Linked DNA regions of Homo sapiens: region 2 is linked to region 1. Evidence: fine-mapped expression QTL. A gene starts in region 1. The other region holds a variant in brackets. All regions are shown on one strand. Distances are from middle to middle. Region 1 holds the start of AP1B1 (adaptor related protein complex 1 subunit beta 1). Region 2 overlaps AP1B1 (adaptor related protein complex 1 subunit beta 1).

Region 1 (11,363 bases):
TGGGGTTGAGAGCCTGGGCCTCTTCTCTTCTCTTTTCTCTTATCTTCTCTTCTCTTCCTTCTCTTCTCTTCTTTCTCTTCTCTTCTCTTCTCTTTTCTTTCTCTTCTCTTCTCTTTTCTCTTATTTCTCTTCTCTTCTCTTTTCGACAGAGTCTCGCTCTGTTGCCCAGGCTGGAGTGGACGGGCATGATCTCAGCTCACTGCAACCTCTGCCACCCAGGTTCAAGTAATCCTCCTGCCTCAGCCCCCCTAGTAGTTGGGATTACAGGCACTCACCACCATCCCCAGCTAATTTTTGTGTTTTTAGTAGAGACAGGGTTTCACCATATTGGCCAGGCTGGTCTGGAACTCCTGACCTCAGGTGATCCACCTGCCTAAGCCTCCCAAAGTGCTGGGATTACAGGTGTGAGCCACTGTGCCCATCTGAGAGCCTGGGCTTTTTCGATGCATCGGCGGAGGGTAGTTCAGCACAGGGGTACCTGAGAGAGCAGAGCTCTTCAAGAGGGAGCCTGTGGTGTACAGCTAGGAGGGGCTGAGCAGGAATTTGCTACTGGGAAGACTAGAAATGGTGCACTGAGGACATCTGCAGCAAGGAGAGCTGGAGGCAAAGGCTGGGATCCCTGGCAAGCTCTAGGCCTCTCTGCCCTGGGGGTTGTGCCAGGCCTGGGCTGGGCGGGAGGGATGGGAAGCTGCCTGCCCTCAGCAAGCAGGTGGAGGCTGGTGTTCCTGAGGCTATGGACAAAGCCACCTCCTGCCTCCTTTTAGAAAGGCTCTGTGGCAACTTTTAGAGATTTGCAGGATGAAAACAACAAAAACCAGCAAGCAAACAGAGACTGGAGTAGAGGAATAGTAATCACAGAGGAACAAGAGTGCGGAAAGGCTGGGAATGTATATAGAAAGGCACAGCGGCCCCTGTGAAAGGATGGCAATTGAAGGGAACGGTGGCGGTTAGTGGCACCTGTGCGCACTCTAGTGGGCGCAGAGGGGAAGAATACTTAATTTGTTCATGTACTTATGCACCCATTCATTGTGGAGGGAGGATGGGAAGGACTTTGCTCTGAGATTCTGAGTATCAGAAAGGGGAAGGGACTTGCTGAGGGTCACAGAATGCCAGTGGCAGGGGTCACAGTGGGTCATTTCACGAGACCGCACGAACTCTCAACCTTCCTGGCATTGGATGAAACCTCATGAAGCAGGTAAGGGTGAGTGGAGAAGAAAGCATGAGGCCTGCCGTCATCAGCCCTGGCCTTGACTCTCCGCTAGGCCCATTGCTGCTTTGGGAAGCTGGGAAAGTCCCTCAACATTTCAGGACTTCAGTGGCCTCATCTGTAAAATGGGGTTATCTTAGCATCTACCTATTGAGAACGGTGAGAGTTAAATGAATTGATGGATGTCAAGGGCATACAACGATGCTTGGCCCATGGTGGGTGCACAGTTCGCAGAGAAGAGAAACTGAGGCCCAAAGAACTGGCCAGGCCCGGTGCAGTGGCTCACGCCTGTAATCCCAGCACTTTGGGAGGCCAAGGCGGGCAGATCACCTGAGGTCAGGGGTTCGAGACCAGCCTAGCCAACATGGTGAAACCCTTTCTCTACTAAAATACAAAAATTAGCCAGGCATGGTGGTGGGTGCCTGTAATCCCAGCTACTCGGGAGGCTGAGGCAGGAGAATGGCTTGACCCCAGGAGGTGGAGGTTGCAGTGAGCCAAGACCGCACCACCGCACTCCAGCCTGGACGACACAGCGAGACTCCGTCTCAAAACAAAACAAAACAAAACAAAAACAACAACAAACAAAATTAGCCAGGAGTGGTGGCACAGGCCTGTAATCCCAGCTACTCGGGAGGCTGAGGCAAGAGAATCACTTGAACCCAGGAGGCGGAGCTTGCAGCAACAAAAGCGAAACTCTGTCTCAAAAACAAAGAACTGGACAGCCCTGTCTCCACCAGCCAGCTCAAATCGGGCAGGGTATAAAAACACTGGGGCTTGGAGAAAAGTTTTAAAATGTCCTGGCTGGGCACAGGGGCACATACCTGTAATCCCAGAACTTTGGAGGCCAAAGCAGGAGGATCACTTGAGGCCAGGAGTTTGAGACCAGCCTGGGCAACATAGTGAGACCTCATCTCTAAAACAAATAAAAATAGGCCGGGCGTGGTGGCTCATGCCTGTAATCCCAGCACTTTGGGAGGCCAAGGCGGGCAGATCATTTAAGGTCAGGAGTTCCGAGACTAGCCTGGCCAACATGGTGAAACCCCATCTCTACTAAAAATACAAAAATTAGTTGGGTGTGGTAGGCAGATTGGGCAAAAAGAGTGAGACTCTGTCTCAAAATAAATAAATAAATAAAAATAAAAACTAGCCAGGAGGTAGTATTATTGTCAGGAAGTATGTATTTCTTGGGAGGAAGCCAGCGCCCTCTCTCTCTCTCTCTCTCTATCCAGGTGGGCTTGGCTACCATTGGCTCTGCTCCCCACATCCTAGGGCAAGGAGTTTCTCCTGGGCCTGGGGTCTCAGAGGGCCGGGGCACCCACATGTGCCCCAGGTGTGGCAGTTCCAGTTGTAGCTGTCAGCATTTGATGGTGTGGATGACTCAGGCAGTGTAGCTAGGTGGGTTTAGTGGTGGGGGCAGAGAGGGAAGTTCCCTTAGATGCTCCCTTCCCCACTTCTGTCACCCACCTCTGCAAGCTGTAATTATCCAGCCTTTTACTTTGAACTGTACTTCCTCTTACTAGTATATTTTTAGCTCTCCTGCCAGATCATGCTGTGGGAGAGCAGGTCCAGGCCCTCATGGAAGTAGGGAAGAAATCAGTTCTACCCACTGGTCTTTTCCTTATCTCTACTTGGGGACAGTCATGGAACTGTCATGGAATTATTGGGAAAGTTTAATGAGTTAATATGCAGAGGCGCTTCACACAGTGCCTGGTTAATGGTTAACTATTAGTAGTAGTCTCACCCTTCACAGTTCAGGTTGGGTGTCACTTCCTCCAGGAAGACTTCCCTGACTTTCCCAGGCTGAATTTGGTGCCTGCATCCCCTGTGCCTCCCTGGTACTTCCTACCACTCTGAGTTATAATTGTCCCTTTGTTTATCTTTCTCCCATACTCAACAGTGAGCCCCCAAGGGGGGATTGTGCCATACCCTGTTCACTGTTGCATCCCCAGTGTTCCTGGCTCAGATGGCAGTGATGATTATATTTTAGGAGAATGAATGAAACTCATGACAGCTGGGGCTCTGGGACCAGGCCCTCAGCCTTGTCACTCACATGCTATTTAAGTTCTCAGGGTTGAAGTTCCCCCCAAGATGAAATGGAGCTAAAACAACCCCTTCCTCATGGGGCCGATGTCAGGAGCAAATGAGATTTTCTGCACACTACCTGCCACGCTACATGTTCCATAAACATTCACTGTTGTTCTGCAGTTCCTGATTAAATACACTCTACTTGGCCGTGTGTGTTGGCTCATGCCTGTAATCCCAGCACTTTGGAGGTGGATCCCTTGAGGTCAGGAGTTTGAGACCAGCCTGGCCAACATGGCAAAACCCCATCTCTACTACAAATACAAAAATTAACCAGGCATGGTGGTGTGCAAATGCAGTCCCAGCTACTTGGGAGGCTGAGGCAGGAGGATTGCTTGACCCTGGGAGGCAGAAGTTGCAGTGAACCAAATTTGCACAGCTGCACTCCAGCCTGAGTGACGGAGACTCTGTCTTAAAAAAAAAAAAAAAAAAAAAAAAAAAAAAAAAGCCAGGTGTGGTAGCTCATGCCTATAATCCCAGCACTGTGGGAGGCCAAGGCGGGCGGATCACCTGAAGTCAGGAGTTCAAGACTAGCCTGGTCAACAGGTTGGAACCCCATCTCCACTACAAATACAAAAATTAGCTGGGTTTGGTGGTGGGCGCCTGTAATCCCAGCGACTCGAGAGGCTGAGGCAGGAGAATTGCTTGAGCCCGGGAGGCAGAGGTTGTAGTGAGCCGAGATTGCTGCCACTCCACTCCAGCCTGGGGGACAGAGCAAGACCCCGGCTCACCAAAAACAAAACAACAACAACAACAAAAACCTTCTACTTGTCCAGGCATCCCTGGTCCCTCCAACCCAAAGGAACTTCAGTTTTAGCTCTGGACTCCCATAGCCTCCCAGTATGTCCCCTCTCACAGCATCAGTCACACTTGTGACTTGCTCCTCTGTCACCCCCTCTCCCTGCAAACTGTAGGCTGAGCAAGGGCAGGGCCTTAGCCTCACCCATCTGACTATCCAGCACCCAGCCCAGGGCCTGGCTGAAACCAGAGGCTTGGAAAATGCTTTCTGCAGGACTCAGACACCTGGCTCCCTTGCACTGGGCGTGGGGGTGGGCCCGTGAGGTTTTCCTGCCTCGGCACAGTTCTTTTCTCTGGATTACCCTTTCCTTCTCTCTCAGCCTACGCAACTCTGTTCTCATTCGGCAAGACAGCGCAAATGCCATCTTCCCCAGGAAGTCCTTCCTGAGCCGCCCGGTGCTGTGACCTCTCCCTCCTTGGAAATCTTAAAGCTCTGACTCCTTCAACCACTGACTTGCCACTTGCACATAAGCTCTCCAGCTTGATACCTTTAGGTTTGTTGGTTTGTTTTGTAGGATAATTTTTCTCTTCTGATGTTACATTCCCAATGAAATTTTGTTTTCCACTGAGGCGGGTGGCATTTACCAACATCTATCATCAGAGAAGGGCAGTTCCTCCAGAAAGTTGCATATCACACATGCTGCATGGCACATACATACACATAAAATTATTCCAGGCACACAGAGGAAAGATCGTGTGAGGACATAGCAAGAGGGCGGCCATCTACAAGCCAAGGAGAGAGGCCTCAGAGGAAAGCAGCCATGCCAACACCTTGATCTTAGACTTCCAGTCCCCAGCACTGTGAGAAAATAAATTCCATTGTTGAAGCCAAAAGAAAAAAAAATTCCATTTGTTCCCTGACTACTTTTTTATTTTTATTTTTTTTGAGACAGAGTCTCACTCCGTCGCCCAGGCTGGAGTGCAGTGGTGCAATCTTGGCTCACTGCAAGCTCCACCTCCCGGGTTCACGCCATTCTCCTGCCTCAGCCTCCTGAGTAGCTGGGACTACAGGCACCCACCACCATGTCCGGCTAATTTTTTGTATTTTTTAGTAGAGACGGGGTTTCACTGTGTTAGCCAGGATGGCCTCCCTGACTACTTTTAAAAAGGATTTAAAAATGGAATAAGGTGGCCGGGCACGGTGGCTCACACCTGTAATCCCAGCACTTTGGGAGGCTGAGGCGGGCGGATCACAAGGTCAGGAGAGCCAGACCATCCTGGCTAACAACGGTGAAACCCCGTCTCTACTAAAAATACAAAAAAAATTAGCCGGGCGTGGTGGCGGGCGCCTGTAGTCCCAGCTACTCGGGAAGCTGAGGCAGGAGAATGACGTGAACCCGGGAGGCGGAGCTTGCAGTGAGCCGAGATCGAGCCACTGAACTCCAGCCTGGGTGATGGAGCGAGGCTCCGTCTAAAATAAATAAATAAATAAATAAATAAATAAAAATGGAATAAGGTTTGTAATTTAGATAACGGTATTTTACCAACACCACCAATTTCCTGCTTTTGCTATTATACTGCAGATATATAAAATGTCACCATTGTGGGAAGCTGGGTGAAGGGTATATGGGACTCAATTTTGGTACTAATTTTGCAATTTCCTGTAAGTCTATAATTATTTAAAAATAACTTTTAAAGGCTTTGAGGCTGCTTAAACATCTAAAATTATATTAAATATAAAAACCAGTAATATCTATATTAGATAGGACGTAGAGACTTAGCAATAAGTGCACTTAGCAGTAAGTGCAAGCTTATTTATTAACAACTTTTTGATAATATTAAAAAAGATGGATAACAACCTCAGGGGATTGTTTTTGAGATTAGCAGTACCATCCACGTAATGGAATACTATGCAGATACTGGAAAGTGCCAAGTAGAAATGTATTTACTATTTTGGGAAACTTTTACCAATATTTTGGTGAGTTAAAAAATACCAACAGTGGCTCACGCCTATAATCCCATCACTTTGGGAAGCTGAGGTGGGCAGATCACTTGAGGTCAGGAGTTCAAGACCAGCCTGGTCAACATGGTGAAACCCCCGCCTCTACTAAAAATACAAAAATTAGCTGGGCACGGTGGTGCATGCTTGTAATCCCAATTACTTGGGAGGCCCAGGCAGGAGAATCGCTTGAACCTGGGAGGCAGAGGTTGCAGTGAGCCAAAATCACGACACTGCACTCCAGTCCGGGCAACAGAGCGAGACCCTGTCTCAAAACAAACAAACAAAAAAAAACAAATGATCTATCAAGTTTGGAAGAATATTCACCAAAATATTAAAAGTGATTGTCTTAGGTCAGTGGGATTGCAGATGGTTTTTTTCTTTTTTCTTTTTTTTTTTTTTTGAGACGGAGTCTTGCTCTGTCGCCCAGGCTGGAGTGCAGTGGTGTGATGTCGGCTCACTGCAAGCTCTGCCTCCCGGGTTCACGCCATTCTCCTGCCTCAGCCTCCTGAGTAGCTGGGACTACAGGCGCCTGCCACCACACCCGGCTAATATTTTGTGTTTTTAGTAGAGACGGGGTTTCACCATGTTAACCAGGATGGTCTCGATCTCCTGGCCTTGTGATCCGCCCGCCTCGGCCTCCCAAAGTGCTGGGATTACAGGTGTGAGCCACCATGCCCGGCCATTTTTTTTCTTTTTTTGAGACAGGGTCTGGATCTGTCGCCCAGGCTGGAGTGCAGTGCTGCAATTATAGCTCACTGTAACCTCAACCTCCTGGGCTCAAGCTATTCTCCTGCCTCAGGCTCCCGAGTAGCTGGGACTACAGGTATGAGCCACTGTGTCTGGCTCAAGGTCACTCATCTTAAGAATGGAGGGGTCCAAACTAGAGCTGTAAACCTAGTTTGGACAGAGAGAGACCCCTCTGTAATCCCAGCACTTTGGGAAGCCGAGGCGGGAGGATCTCTCGGGTCCATGATTTCGAGACCAGCCTGAGCAATAAAGTGAGACTCTCTCTACAAAAAATAAATAAGTAAATAATAAGTAATTAGCCGGGCGTAGTGCTGCGCACCTGTGGTCCCAGCTGCTTGGGAGGCTGAGGTGAGAGGATCACCTGAGCCTGGGAGGCGGAGGGTGCAGTGAGCCCAGATCTTCGAGCCACTGCACTCTAGCTTGAGCAACAGAGCAAGACCCTATTTCAAACAAACAAACAAAAAATGAGTGACCTTGAGCAAAACCCTGCCCCTCTTAGAACCTCAGATTTGCCGTCTTTACACAGAAGATGGACTTCAAACTCCCTACGACCTTGCCCGGCCCCCTCACGCTGAATTGGCTAGCGGGATGGTTTCCCAAGGGCTCTGCGGGAGACTGCAGCATAGCAGCGCCGCGGCTGCCGAGGGGTTAATACCGTTGGGCTCTTCCCCTTTTCTTGCCCCGCCCCACGGGCACCACCCCCGCCAGGGTTGTACCCTTGACCCCGCCTTCAGGCCTTGCGTCCACCGGAAGTACCCGCGCGCGGGCAGCTCACTTCCGCCCGGCAGGTGACAGCCGCGGGGCTCCGAGCCGCCGGCAGCCCGGACGCACCGGGAGAGCGAGAGGTGGAGGCCGCGGACATTTTGGTGCCAAGCCGAACCGAGCCGGGGCGCCGGGAGCTATTGGGACCTGCGGGTGAGGAAGCGGGGACCCGGGCGAGCCAGGAGAAGAAGTGGGGCGAGGGGTCAGGGGTCCTAGGTGAGGGGTTTGCGGGGTCAGAGGTCATGAAGAGGACGCGGCGCTGCAGGGGCGCGAGCGACGTCCCCAGCCAGAGGAGGAGGAAGGGCTGAGGGTTCGTTCATTCATTCGCGCCCACTTGGCCGCCGGCCTGTTCCTCGGCCGCCCCATACCCGCAGCACCTCCTGGGGCTTCCGCCCGGAGAGACAGGACTTAGGCCCCGAGGAATTCCCCACTGGCCTGAGGGAAAACTCTTCGGGCTCTGATTTCCTCTTTCGGACTCACCTCCATGGCCATCCTGAGGCCTCCTCGTTGTTCAGGGCGTTATCTCTTTGCCAAGGTTGAAAAAGAAGAAAGAAAAAAAAACTAGAAAACGGTCCCGTGCCGCCCGCCTCCGGCTAGGCACTGGCTTGGTCTTGTTTGTTGGAGCCTCTAAGACAAGTTAACTGAATGGAGACACCGGTGATAATGCTGCAAAATAACGAGGGAGATGCTTGCTAGTGGCTATCGAGTCCCTTCTGTGTACCGGGCACTGTGCTAAGCACTTTCCTTACAATGACACATTTAAACTTCACAGCAACCTTTGTGGGGATTAAATATCCCTATTTTATCGATGAGGACCCTGAGGCACAGAGAGGTTAAATCCCACATGTAAGGTCATTCGGGTAGTAGAGGCAAGGCCAGGTTTTCTGCCAGGCTGTCAGAGACCTGCAAAGTACAGAGACAAAGGAAAGACTGGAGTTAAGGTTGGGGTGTAGGGGATATTTAAGACTTTTAGCCAGACATGGTGGCTCACGCCTGTAATCCCAGCACTTTGGGAAGCTGAGGCGGGTGGATCGTGAGGTCAGGAGTTCAAGACCAGCCTGACCAACATGGTGAAACCCTGTCTCCAATAAAAATACAAAAATTAGCCAGACATGGTGGCGTACGCCTGTAATCCCAGCTACTTGGGAGGCTGAGGCAGGAGAATCGCTTGAACCCAGGAGGTGGAGGTTGCAGTGAGCCGAGATCGTGCGACTGCACTCCAGCCTGGGCCACGGAGTGAGACTCCGTCTCAAAAAAAAAAAAAAAAAAAAGATTTTTAGCTGCCGTTGTATTTATTTGGATTTATGTCACGATGTAGCCTTATTGCTTTTTGTCTGATCTTCATAAGGGGCATTCGACTTACTTTCTTTAGGATAAAACAATCCTACAGGCTGTTGCTATTAGTGATACCTTTCAGGGCAAGAGTCTAAGATTTTCCTGACTTTAGGGAACAGTGAGACACAAAACAGGCTATCCGTGAAAACTATTTGAAGATTGTCGAGAACTTCTCTTCAGAGTGGTTGAGCTGCATTCGTTTTGGTCTAAAAAGAGAGGAACCACATGACCTCTAGGGGATCTTTTGGTCCTAGGTTCTGGAAGAAGGTACCCAGAGGAAGAATCTTTGCCTTTCTGAGAAATATGCAGGCCCCATGGCTTCTTGCCAGAGCAGAGCACGTCTTACTTGGGAGGTGGTGAGACGGTTTGGTGGCTGGAGGACTAGGCTGTATGAATCTAAGCCTCATTCCATTGCGGATATTCACTTGCTTCAATTCTGCCTCAGTTTCCCTGACATCAACATGAGAAAGACCTGCCGCCTTCCTGTCTGCTCCTAGGGGTATGAACCTGTGAATGAACCCGTGAGGGCTTCCACATGGCTTCTGAAGAAAGCTGTATATAAATATTACTGTAATACCTTTTTTTTTTAAGCTGTGTGATCTATTCTCCTAGTTCCATTGAATTCACAGAAACTTAATATTGTCACCTTATATTCCCATCCTTCCAAGGGAGGATTTGAGATGAAGCAACTTGTCACAGAGGGTAGGAACATGAGCAGAGCTCAGAGCTTCTGGTTTTCTGTCCTGAGTTGAGCCCACCAGTCTCCTCTGACCTCTTAGAAACTGTCATGAGGAGCATCTTCAGTAGGTCTCAAAGAGTCAGATCCCTCAGAGATTGTGTGAAGATCATCTGTTGAGTGTAGGTCAGTGGAGGCTTCACCCTGAGCTGCTTCAAGAGCCCAGAGGTATGATGGAAAGATCACCAGACTCCCAGTCAGTCAGCCCTGGGTTCAACCCCAGCTCAGCAGCTTCCTGGCAGTGTGACCTGACCTGGACCGTTGACATAGGCTGGCCCTCCTTTACCTCAGTTCTAAAATAATACTGGCCACCCTTTCTGACTCCTCTACCCCTGGTTTGTGTGAGGGTTAGATGGGAAAATTTGTGCAGGGCCTGTGATTTTTGGGTGCTTTGACTCTAGGCAGACTGATGCCTGCTGGGGGCCTGTGTCTGAGGAAGGCTGCCAACCTTGGCTTCTGGAGCGTTACTTCCTTCTGCAAACAGAGACCTTAATGTACGCAGGACTTTTTCCACCCTTCTTGTTTCACTTCCTAAAAGTAGTTCAGAACAAGTTCAATTTGTTGGTCCTTCTGGCTTTGAGCTTGGGCTTGCATCTTTTTCTAGTCATCCTCTGAAACTCTTGCATGTCTTAACTACTTCCCAGGAACTTCCCGTGTCTGGCACCAAAGCCTGACATGCTGACAGTAAGCAAACATGGCTTGGGTTTTGCACTTCGCTGTGTTTCTGAAGGTTGAGGTGACATCTGTGCCTTGCAGACATTTCTTTTTCTCAGCAGGTCTTTTTGCCTAAGAGACATCGTTGATATTATCACAGCCCAGAAGTGATTTTTCTGTTCTTTATGTCTTCACATGGAGAGGAACAAATACTCCTGAGAAAAAATGTCAACAGAGCAGTTGGGGAATCCTTAAAGAAAATTCTGCTTGAAAATTCATCAGTGGCTCCTAGTTGCCCTCGGGCTAAAACTCACATTCCTTAGCATGGCATTCAAGGCCCTTTGGACTCTGACCCCTGCCTAGCTCTCTTTTGTCATCTCTCCTGCTCCACACTCACCTTTTCCCAAGCTCCAGTCAACCTCAGCTACTTGCTACTTCTGCAAGCACCAACTCTTTTTCTTTTTTCGAGACAGGATCTTGGCTTGTTACCCAGACTGTAGTACAGTGGAGCTGTCATAGCTCACTGCAGGCTCCAACTCCTGGGCTTGAACGATCCTCCTGCCTCAGCCTCCCAAGTAGCTAGTACTACAGATGGGTGCCACTGTGCCTGGCAAATTGTTTTTATTTTTTGTAGAGATGGAGTCTTGCTATATTGCTCAGGCTGGTCTCAAACCCCTGGCCTCAAGCAGTCCTTCTGTCTGGGCCTCCCAAAGTGCTGGGATTACAGGCGTGAGCCACCACACCTGGCCTCCCAACTCTTTATACCTCTCTGTCTTTGCTTTGCACTCTTCCCTCTGCCTGAACACCATTTCCTGCTCTCCCAACCTTACCTGCCTAGCTGGAGTGCTACTTGGTTCTTCCCATCTGATCATCACCCCTAGGTCTGAGCTAGATGCCCCTCCTTGATGCCCTCTGGCAAGGGTCACAGTGGGTTGTGATTGTTTATTTGGCTCTCTTCTAAGTAAATAGCTCTTTTTTTTTTTCCAGACAGAGTCTCGCTTTTTCGCCCATGCTGGAGTGCAGTGGCGCGATCTTGGCTCACTGCAACCTCCGCCTCCCGGGTTCAAGCAATTCTCATGCCTTAGCCTCCAGAGTAGCTG
Region 2 (8,000 bases), 24 kb after region 1:
CTAAGGTATTTTGTTTGTTTTATTCACTTTTCTTTCTTTCTTTCTTTCTTTTTTTTTTTTTTTTTGAGACTGAGTCTCACTCTGTCGCTCGGGCTGGAGTGCAGTGGCACGATCTCAGCTCACTGCAGTCTCCACCTCCTGAGTTCAAGCAATTCTCTTGCCTCAGCCTCCCGAGTAGCTGGGACTACAGGCACATGCCACCACGCCCAGCTAATTTTTTGTATTTTAGTAGCGACGGGGTTTCACTATGTTGCCCAGGCTGGTCTCAAACTCCTGAGCTCAGGCAATCTGCCCACCTCAGCCTCCCAAAGTGCTAGGATTACAGGCATGAGCCACCACGCCCGGCCACTTTTGTTTCTTTTTAGATTTAATGTTGGAGTGGTTTCTGTGTTACTTTCTGTGTTTCTTTGTGGCCTGTGAGTTTTAGCCCCTTTTGTCTTCAGTTATCCCTCTTACACTCAACCTTGAGAAATGATATTATCCTATTATTTTGGATACTTTTGGCAGTTACACTCTCAAGTCTGTGACTTCTGGAACCATGCAGATCTTTATTGTAAGACAGAAATCCCATTATCTGATTTACCTGCCCATTTTCAGAGGTCCCCAAAGAACCCCTAGGTTGGTGAGGTTTCTTTGAGAAAATGGCTTTATGTGTGTGCAAAAAAAAAAAAAAAAAAAAATCGTTTTTAATGTCGGTAAATTCCTGTTGGAAACAAATGCTAACTAGTTACGTAACAGGGCTGCCAGAGAGCAGGCTGAGGCTCCCTGGGATTTTCAGTGGCCCCTTTTCATTTCTTTCAACAACTATCAATTGAATACTTGCTATGTGCCGGGCCTGGGCCAGGCATGAAAGAGGAGGGCGAACGGGAGCTGTGAGCCTGGCGCATGCGGGGCCTTCCTTTGTGGATCTGTCTACAGCCATGACTCATGCTGGGAGGACCAGCAAGTTTAGAGTCCCCACTGTGGGACTTGCAACATCAGACGCAGTGGGCTCTTCTGCTCTTTCCTGCAGCTCCCATAGAAAAGTGCCATCCTTCCTTTTCAACTTTGCAAAGCAAAAGGGAAGTAGAATTGTGCCTTTTTTTGTACTGTTTTGTCAGTGAAGCCTTTATTCCTTTATTCCTTCAGGATCCACAAAGGATTTAAGGTGACCCCAAGACAGTACGTATTTGTTTCCCAGTGATTACTGAAACAAAATCTATGGGTGTCTCTCGGTTGGGAGGCTTGCTCAGTGCCATCCTGCCATAAATACAAGCTTAATTTGGAAAAATCCAATTGGGCTGGAGAGGAGGTGCTGTGTTGGCTTGGTTTCCAGAGGCTGTGAAATGACTCCTGATCCCTCACATCCGTTGCACTAGTAACTTTCATCTTGCCCCCGTATAGTAATGACTTGAAAGGAGATATTGGTGGGTTATTTGTTTGAGTCCCTTCCATAGACGCAACAAAAGAGATAAAGTGAAGTGGGTTTTCTCCATTCAAATGTCTGTTTTTTGGAGTTGTGTGGTTTTCTATACCACATAAAACTACAGGTAGGATTGGAAGGCTGTACTTGAAAGTCTCAATGTGTTTTTTTTTTGCGGGGGTGGGGCGGGGAGACAGAGTCTTGCTCTGTCACCACACTGGAGTGCTGTGGCACAGTCTCAGCTCACTGCAACTTCTGCCTCCTGGGTTCAAGTGCTTCTTGTGCCACTCAGCCTCCCAAGTAGATGGGACTACAGGTGTGCACCACTGCGTCCGGCCTCAATTTTTTTTTTTTTTTTTGACTGAATCCTTTAGCCACTATCAGGGAACTGTCCTCCTCGTCAGAAGGGGGAAACAGAATTCCTTCAATAGAGCATAGGAACTAAGCTCAGGTAGGCCTGAGATGGTCTCCCAGCCCAGCCACTTACAAGCCATTTGACCTTGGGCACGTCATGTAACATCGCTGAGTCCGTTTCATCATTTGTAAAATGGGATTCAAAGCAGTTACATTATTGACAAGATTAAGTGAGATAATGTGGGCGAAGCCCCTGCCTTTAATAGGGGCTCAGTAAATGATAGATTCTTAATAAATGTATCTAGGGTATCTTGGTTCCTGTGTAACTTCTTTTCTTTCATCTGTTGCCCAGAAGAACTACTGAGGTACATAGGAGATGCTCAGTAAATTTTTGTTAAATGATTTTTGTTAAATGAATGGCAGAGCTTCAGTACTTTCTTTGTCCTATTGTCTTTTTTTTTTCTGAGACAGAGTCTTGCTCTGTCTCCCAGGCTGGAGTGCAGTGGTGTGGTCTCAGCTTACTGCAGCCTCAGTCTCTTGGGTTCCAGTGATTCTCCTGCCTCACCCTCCCAAGTAACTGAGATTACAGGCACACACTACCACGCCTGGCTAATTTTTTGTATTTTTAGTAGAGATGGTTTTTACCATGTTGGCCAGGCTGGTTTCAAACTCCTGACCTCAGGTGATCCACCCGCCTCAGCCTCCCAAAGTGCTGGGATTACAGGCATGAGCTGTGGTGCCCAGCCCCTATTGTCTACAATAGTACTTCACGCTGTGAGCTTTGCGCTAGGAGATGTCCTGAGAGAGCCTTTAAGAAAACTGGCCAGGTAGATTTGGGAACTGCTGTAGAGTACAGATTCTAGCCCTTTCCAGAGATGAATCAGGCATGTTACTATTTTAGCAGCTTAGAAAAGTTGTGGGGAGAAGAAGTCTCCCTAGCCTTTTAAGCTTGGTATTTTCTAATCTTATTTGACTGTATAGGGTAATATCGTGCCTTGATGATGCTGTGATGAGGCTCCTAATGAGTTAATGTGTGCCAAGCATTTAGGACAGTGCTGAGCAAAGTGGGTCCCACAAAGGGGCTGCTGTAAGCCCATCCATCCTTGTGCAGATATTTTTGTGGGAAAGATTTCTAGAAGAGGCACATTCAAAAATTTGATGGGATCAGGTGTGGTGGCTCACACCTGTAATCCCAGCACTTTGGGAGGCCGAGGCAGGAGGATTGGCTGAGCCCAGGAGTTTGAGACCAGCCTGGGCAACATGGTGAGATCCCATCTCTGAAGAAAAAAAAAAAAAAAAGGTTGATAGATTCCTCAGAATTACTTTTCAAAATCTAATCTGCCATGATCTAAAGTTTGTTTCTCCAGGAAATAGATAAGCAGCTGTTTTCCTGTACCACATGTGTTCTGGATCCTTCTCCTCCCTCTGCACCATAACTGAAGATGGGATGGAGCATAACTGAAAGTCACCCCTCTCTTCTCTCTCTTGCAGAAGCCTGGCTACAGATAAGGGACCAAAATGACTGACTCAAAATATTTCACCACGACCAAGAAAGGTATTACTTGTTTAATAATGGGCCTTGTCCTATGCTTTCTCTTCCTGTCCCTTCTGTTTTCCTCCTATGGCGGTAGGGAGTAGGGGTGGGAATGAAGGCCTGGAAACATGTGGCAGGAATGGCCTAGAGCTTGTGGTAGATCTAGAAAATTGAACTGTTGATGATATAAGAAATTGACCACTCCTTTTAGAGCTCAGAAAGGGAAGAACATTAGCTCCAAGTGTGGGGAAAAAAAGTGCCCTTTTATTTCCCATGGCTTAAAATAATTATGTTTTTTTCCAGGGGAAAGAAAACACAGAATCCTATCAACACCCCCACAGCAGTTGTGTGTGTGTGTGTGTGTGTGTGTGTGTGTGTGTGTGTGTGTGTGTGTCCTTATCCAAGGGCACGTGTTTTTCTTTTTTTTTGAGACGGAGTTTCACTCATGTCACCCAGGCTGGAGTGCAGTGGTGCGATCTTGGCTCATTGCAACCTCCGCCTC[T/C]CGAGTTGAAGTTATTCTCCTGCCTCAGCCTCCGGAATTGCTGGGATTACATGCGCCCGCCGCTATGCCCAGCTAATTTTTCTTTCTTGTTTTTTTGAGACGGAGTTTCGCTCTTGTTGCCCAGGCTGGAGTGCAATGGCGCTGATCTCAGCTCACCACAACCTCCGCTTTCCAGGTTTAAGTGATACTCCTGCCTCAGCCTCCCAAGTAGCTGGGATTACACCACCATGCCCGGCTAATTTTGTATTTTTGGTAGAGACGGGGTTTCTCCATGTTGGTCAGGCTGGTCTGAAACTCCTGACCTCAGGTGATCCGCCCCCTCAGCCTCCCAAAGTGCTGGGATTACAGGCGTGAGCCACCGCGGCCGGTCAGGCATGTATTTTCATCGTTTTAATCCTGTTTTTCATTTGATGTTTTGATATCATAAACATTTCCCAACAATTCTAATGACTCACTATTAAGTCTATTGAGTAGCTACACTGAAATTTGCTAAGCTAGGCTTATATCATTGGGTATTTTGGTTGTTTCTGCTTTTAAGGAAATGGAGGATGTCGTCGTGGCTGACAAATGTGCTTTAACCCTGTAAGCATCTTTCTGGCCAGCCCTTTATTCCTCCCTCCTTCCTTCCAAGTGATACTGACACATGCCTGCCGACCAGATGAAAAGAGTCTGTTGCTGGATCAGCTGATCCAGGACCCGAAGTCTGCCCCTCATCAGGCATTTCATGTATTGGTCTAGCTGGTTTTTACTGAGAACCTACCATGTGCAGTGGAAAAGAAACAGAGCCTCTGACCTGGTGTTGCTCAAGGTTGAGCAGGGAAGACAGTCTGTAGAGTAGTAACCACACTGAAGTGTACTGGGTCCAGGGGGGACTGTGGGAGAGCTCTGGGTGGAGCTGGCCAGATCGATGGGGGATAGGAAGGGGAAGGAGTGAGTGCTGTGCCTGTGACACATTTGGGGAAAGGAAGGTAGTGGGCATGAGCTACCGAGGAGGGTGATACAAGAAGAGGTTAGAGCCAGGCACAGTGGCGCCCCAGGTGGTGGCTTGGGTGGGAGGATTACTTGCTTGAGCCCAGGAGTTCGAGTCTAGCCTGGGCAACTAATTGAAAAAAGAGAGAAAGCAATTGGAGAGGTACGCAGGGATCAGTCTTGTGGAGCCTGGTGAGCCACAGGGTGAACGTAGTGCTGAGTGTATTGGAGTCCCAGGGGTGGGTTTTGTTGTTTGTTTGTTTTTTTTTGAGACAGAGTCTCTGTCACCCAGGCTGGAGTGCAATGGGAAGATCTCTGCTCACTGCAGCCTCCTGGGTTCAAGCAATTCTCCCAAGTAGCTGGGACTACAGGCACGTGCCACCATGCCCAGCTATTTTTTTTATTTTGGGGTTGGGGTTTTTTAGTGGATTTCTTTTGGGAAGAGAGATGTGTGGACAGACATGCCTGGGTTCAATGCTCCAGCCAAAGAGACAAGGAAACAGGTTTAGGAAAGCAAAGTGGGTATCTTGGGTAGGCCCAAGCATAGGGATTGAGAGCATGGGCTTTGGAGCTAGCAGACCTGGTTTTCAGTTTCAGCCCTGCCCCCTACCAGCATTGGCTATACGTTACTGAGCCTCTCACAGCCTCCATTTGCAAAACGGAGGGAAATGCAGAGTTGTGAGGATGAAATAAGAAAATGTGTGGGAACAAGTTAGTATGGGACTAGGCTTAGAGAAGGGCTTAGAGGGGCCGGGCATGGTGGCTCAGGCCTGTAGTCTCAACACTTTGGGAGGCTGAGGCGGGTGGATCACCTGAGGTCAGGAGTTTGAGACCAGCCGGGCCAACATGGTGAAACCCCGTCTCTACTAAAAATACAAAAATTAGGAGGGTTTGATGGTGTCCGCCTATAGTTCCAGCTATTTGGGAGGCTGAGGCAGCAGAATTGCTTGAACCCGGGAGGCGGAAGTTGCGGTGAGCCGAGATCGCACCGCTGCACTCCAGCCTGGGTGACAGAGTGAGACTATGTCTCAAAAAAAAAAAATGGCCGGGCGTGGTGGCTCATGCCTGTAATCCCAGTGCTTTGGGAGACCAAGGCGGGCGGATCACGAGATCAGTTCAAGACCAGCCTGACCAACATGGTGAAACCCCGTCTGTACTAAAAATACAAAAATTAGCTGGGTGTGATGGCGCACGCCTGTAGTCCCAGCTACCCGGTATGCTGAGGCAGGAGAATTGCTGGAACCCAGGAGGCAGAAGTTGCAGTGAGCTGAGATGGGGCCACTGCACTCCAGCATGGGTGACAGAGCAAGACTCTGTCTCAAAAAAATAAAAAATAAAAGAGAAGGGGTCAGGAAATGACATCTGCCCTCCTAACCTGTTATCAGGGTCCTGACTATCTGTCCATGGCAGGGCCAGACAACCCTGCTTCCTCATTTGTTTTTTTCATGTCATGAAGTTCTTCAGAACAATTGATTTCATGCTTGAGCTCTCATGGAGCAGCTGAATTCCTGTTTTCAGAGCTGAGCAACCAACCACTTGTGTCTCAGGAAGTGAAACCCTGAACAAGCTGTTTTAATTAGAGGTTTGAGGAAAACAGGAAAGGCCTTCATGTGGGAATCCACAAATCCTGCTCTCACCCCGCAAGCCTTAAGTACTCAGGTTCTATTGCACTGAGCCTTTTAAGGGTCTTTTGTTGAGTGAGGGTAGCTGAGGACAGCTTTGCCTTCCACTGGGGTTTTAGCTCCCTGGCTGAGCAGAGCCTGCCATCATGTTTTTGATGCTTTTGTCTTCCTCAGAACCTTTGTAGCTTCCATGGTTCCTGTTGCTTCAATCCAGAGTGGCCTCTAAACTTTTTTTTTTTGGAGACAGGATCTCACTTTGTGTCCCCCAGGCTGGAGTGTAGTGGTGTCATGGCTCACGGCAACCTCGATCTCTGGGCTCAAACGATTCTTCAGCCTCAGCCTCCAGAGTAGCTGGCACGGCAGGCACATGCCACCACACCCGGCTAATTAAAAAAAATTATTTTGTAGAAACGAGGTCTCACTATGTTACCCAGGCTGATCTCAAACTCCTGAGCTCAAGTAATCCTCAGCCTCTTTTTTTTTTTTTGAGATGGAGTCTTGGCCCTGTCGCCAGGCTGGAGTGCAGTGGCGCCATCTTGCCTCACTGCAACCTCCACCTCCCGGATTCAAGCAATTCCCCTGCCTCAGCCTCCCGAGTAGCTGGGATTACAGGCACGCGCCACTATGCCCGGCTAATTTTTTGTATTTTAATAGAGACAAGGTTTCACTATGTTGGCCAGGATGGTCTTGATCTTCTGACCTCGTGATCCGCCTGCCTCGGACTCCCAAAGTGCTGGGATTACAGGCATGAGCCACTGTGCTGGCCAATCCTCAGCATTTTAAAGTGCTGGGATTACAGGTATGAGCGACTGCACCCGGCCTACAAGTTTCCATCTTGTTAATTCCTGTCCTAACAGTCATCCCTCACTGTTGCCTGGCCCACCTGAGGCCAGGCGCCTGAAGCTTCCCTCAGCCAACAGCATAGGATGTCTTACGTGCCTCCCTCCGGTTCTTTTGGAAGTTAGATACTGGGAATTGTCCCCTGCCAGGGTAGGGAGGGATCACTCATGCTTGCCTCCTTTCCTTAGGGGAGATCTTCGAGCTGAAGGCAGAGCTCAACAGTGACAAGAAGGAGAAGAAGAAGGAGGCAGTGAAGAAAGTGATTGCATCGATGACCGTGGGCAAAGATGTCAGGTGTGCAGGAGTAGGCCTGGTGGCAGCTAGAAGCTGGCTGACAGGGGAGGGTTTATAGCTTGGGTCCACTTCAGTCTCTCCTTTAGGGTGTCTAGGGACCCATGTCTCCCCTCATACAGCTCCCTTCATAAAACTTTCTTCCCAATAGAAGGTTTTGTTTACACAGGAATCATGAGCCCAGACACTGACAGGTCAGGTGGTTATGGAGTGAGTTAACTGGAGTAGGTGGGAAAGGCAGCAGGCAATGGAGTGGGTGTGGCATGAACCCTCTCAGAAACTCCAGAGGATCAGTACTGGCTGGGGAAGAGGACCCAGTGTGGCCAGGTCTTCTGGTTTTTAAAAGAATGGGAAATCTGGGCCAGGCGCGGTGGCTCACGCCTGTAATCCTAGCACTTGGGGAGGCCCAGGCGGGCGGATCTCGAGGTCAGGAGTTCGACACCAGCCTGGCCAATATGGTGATATCCTGTCTCTACTAAAAATACA

What was found. PIP is the estimated chance that this variant, and not a neighbour inherited with it, causes the effect. A credible set is the group of variants that fine-mapping cannot tell apart.
Region 2: its variant is the best candidate, but not a certain one, in a credible set for the expression of AP1B1 in whole blood (INTERVAL, PIP 0.73).

What each region holds. Positions count from the first base shown.
Region 1 is chr22:29,384,752-29,396,114 of GRCh38, reverse strand. AP1B1 (adaptor related protein complex 1 subunit beta 1) reads left to right here and starts at 7,545. Exons shown (of 23, transcript NM_001127.4): 1 at 7,545-7,691. It also overlaps a transcript of RFPL1 not described here.
Region 2 is chr22:29,362,518-29,370,517 of GRCh38, reverse strand. AP1B1 (adaptor related protein complex 1 subunit beta 1) reads left to right here. Exons shown (of 23, transcript NM_001127.4): 2 at 3,248-3,311; 3 at 7,412-7,517. The coding sequence starts at 3,275. Among named protein-coding and RNA genes, the nearest start is that of AP1B1, 22 kb to the left of the region's middle. The variant T/C (reference allele first, on the strand shown) is at 3,793.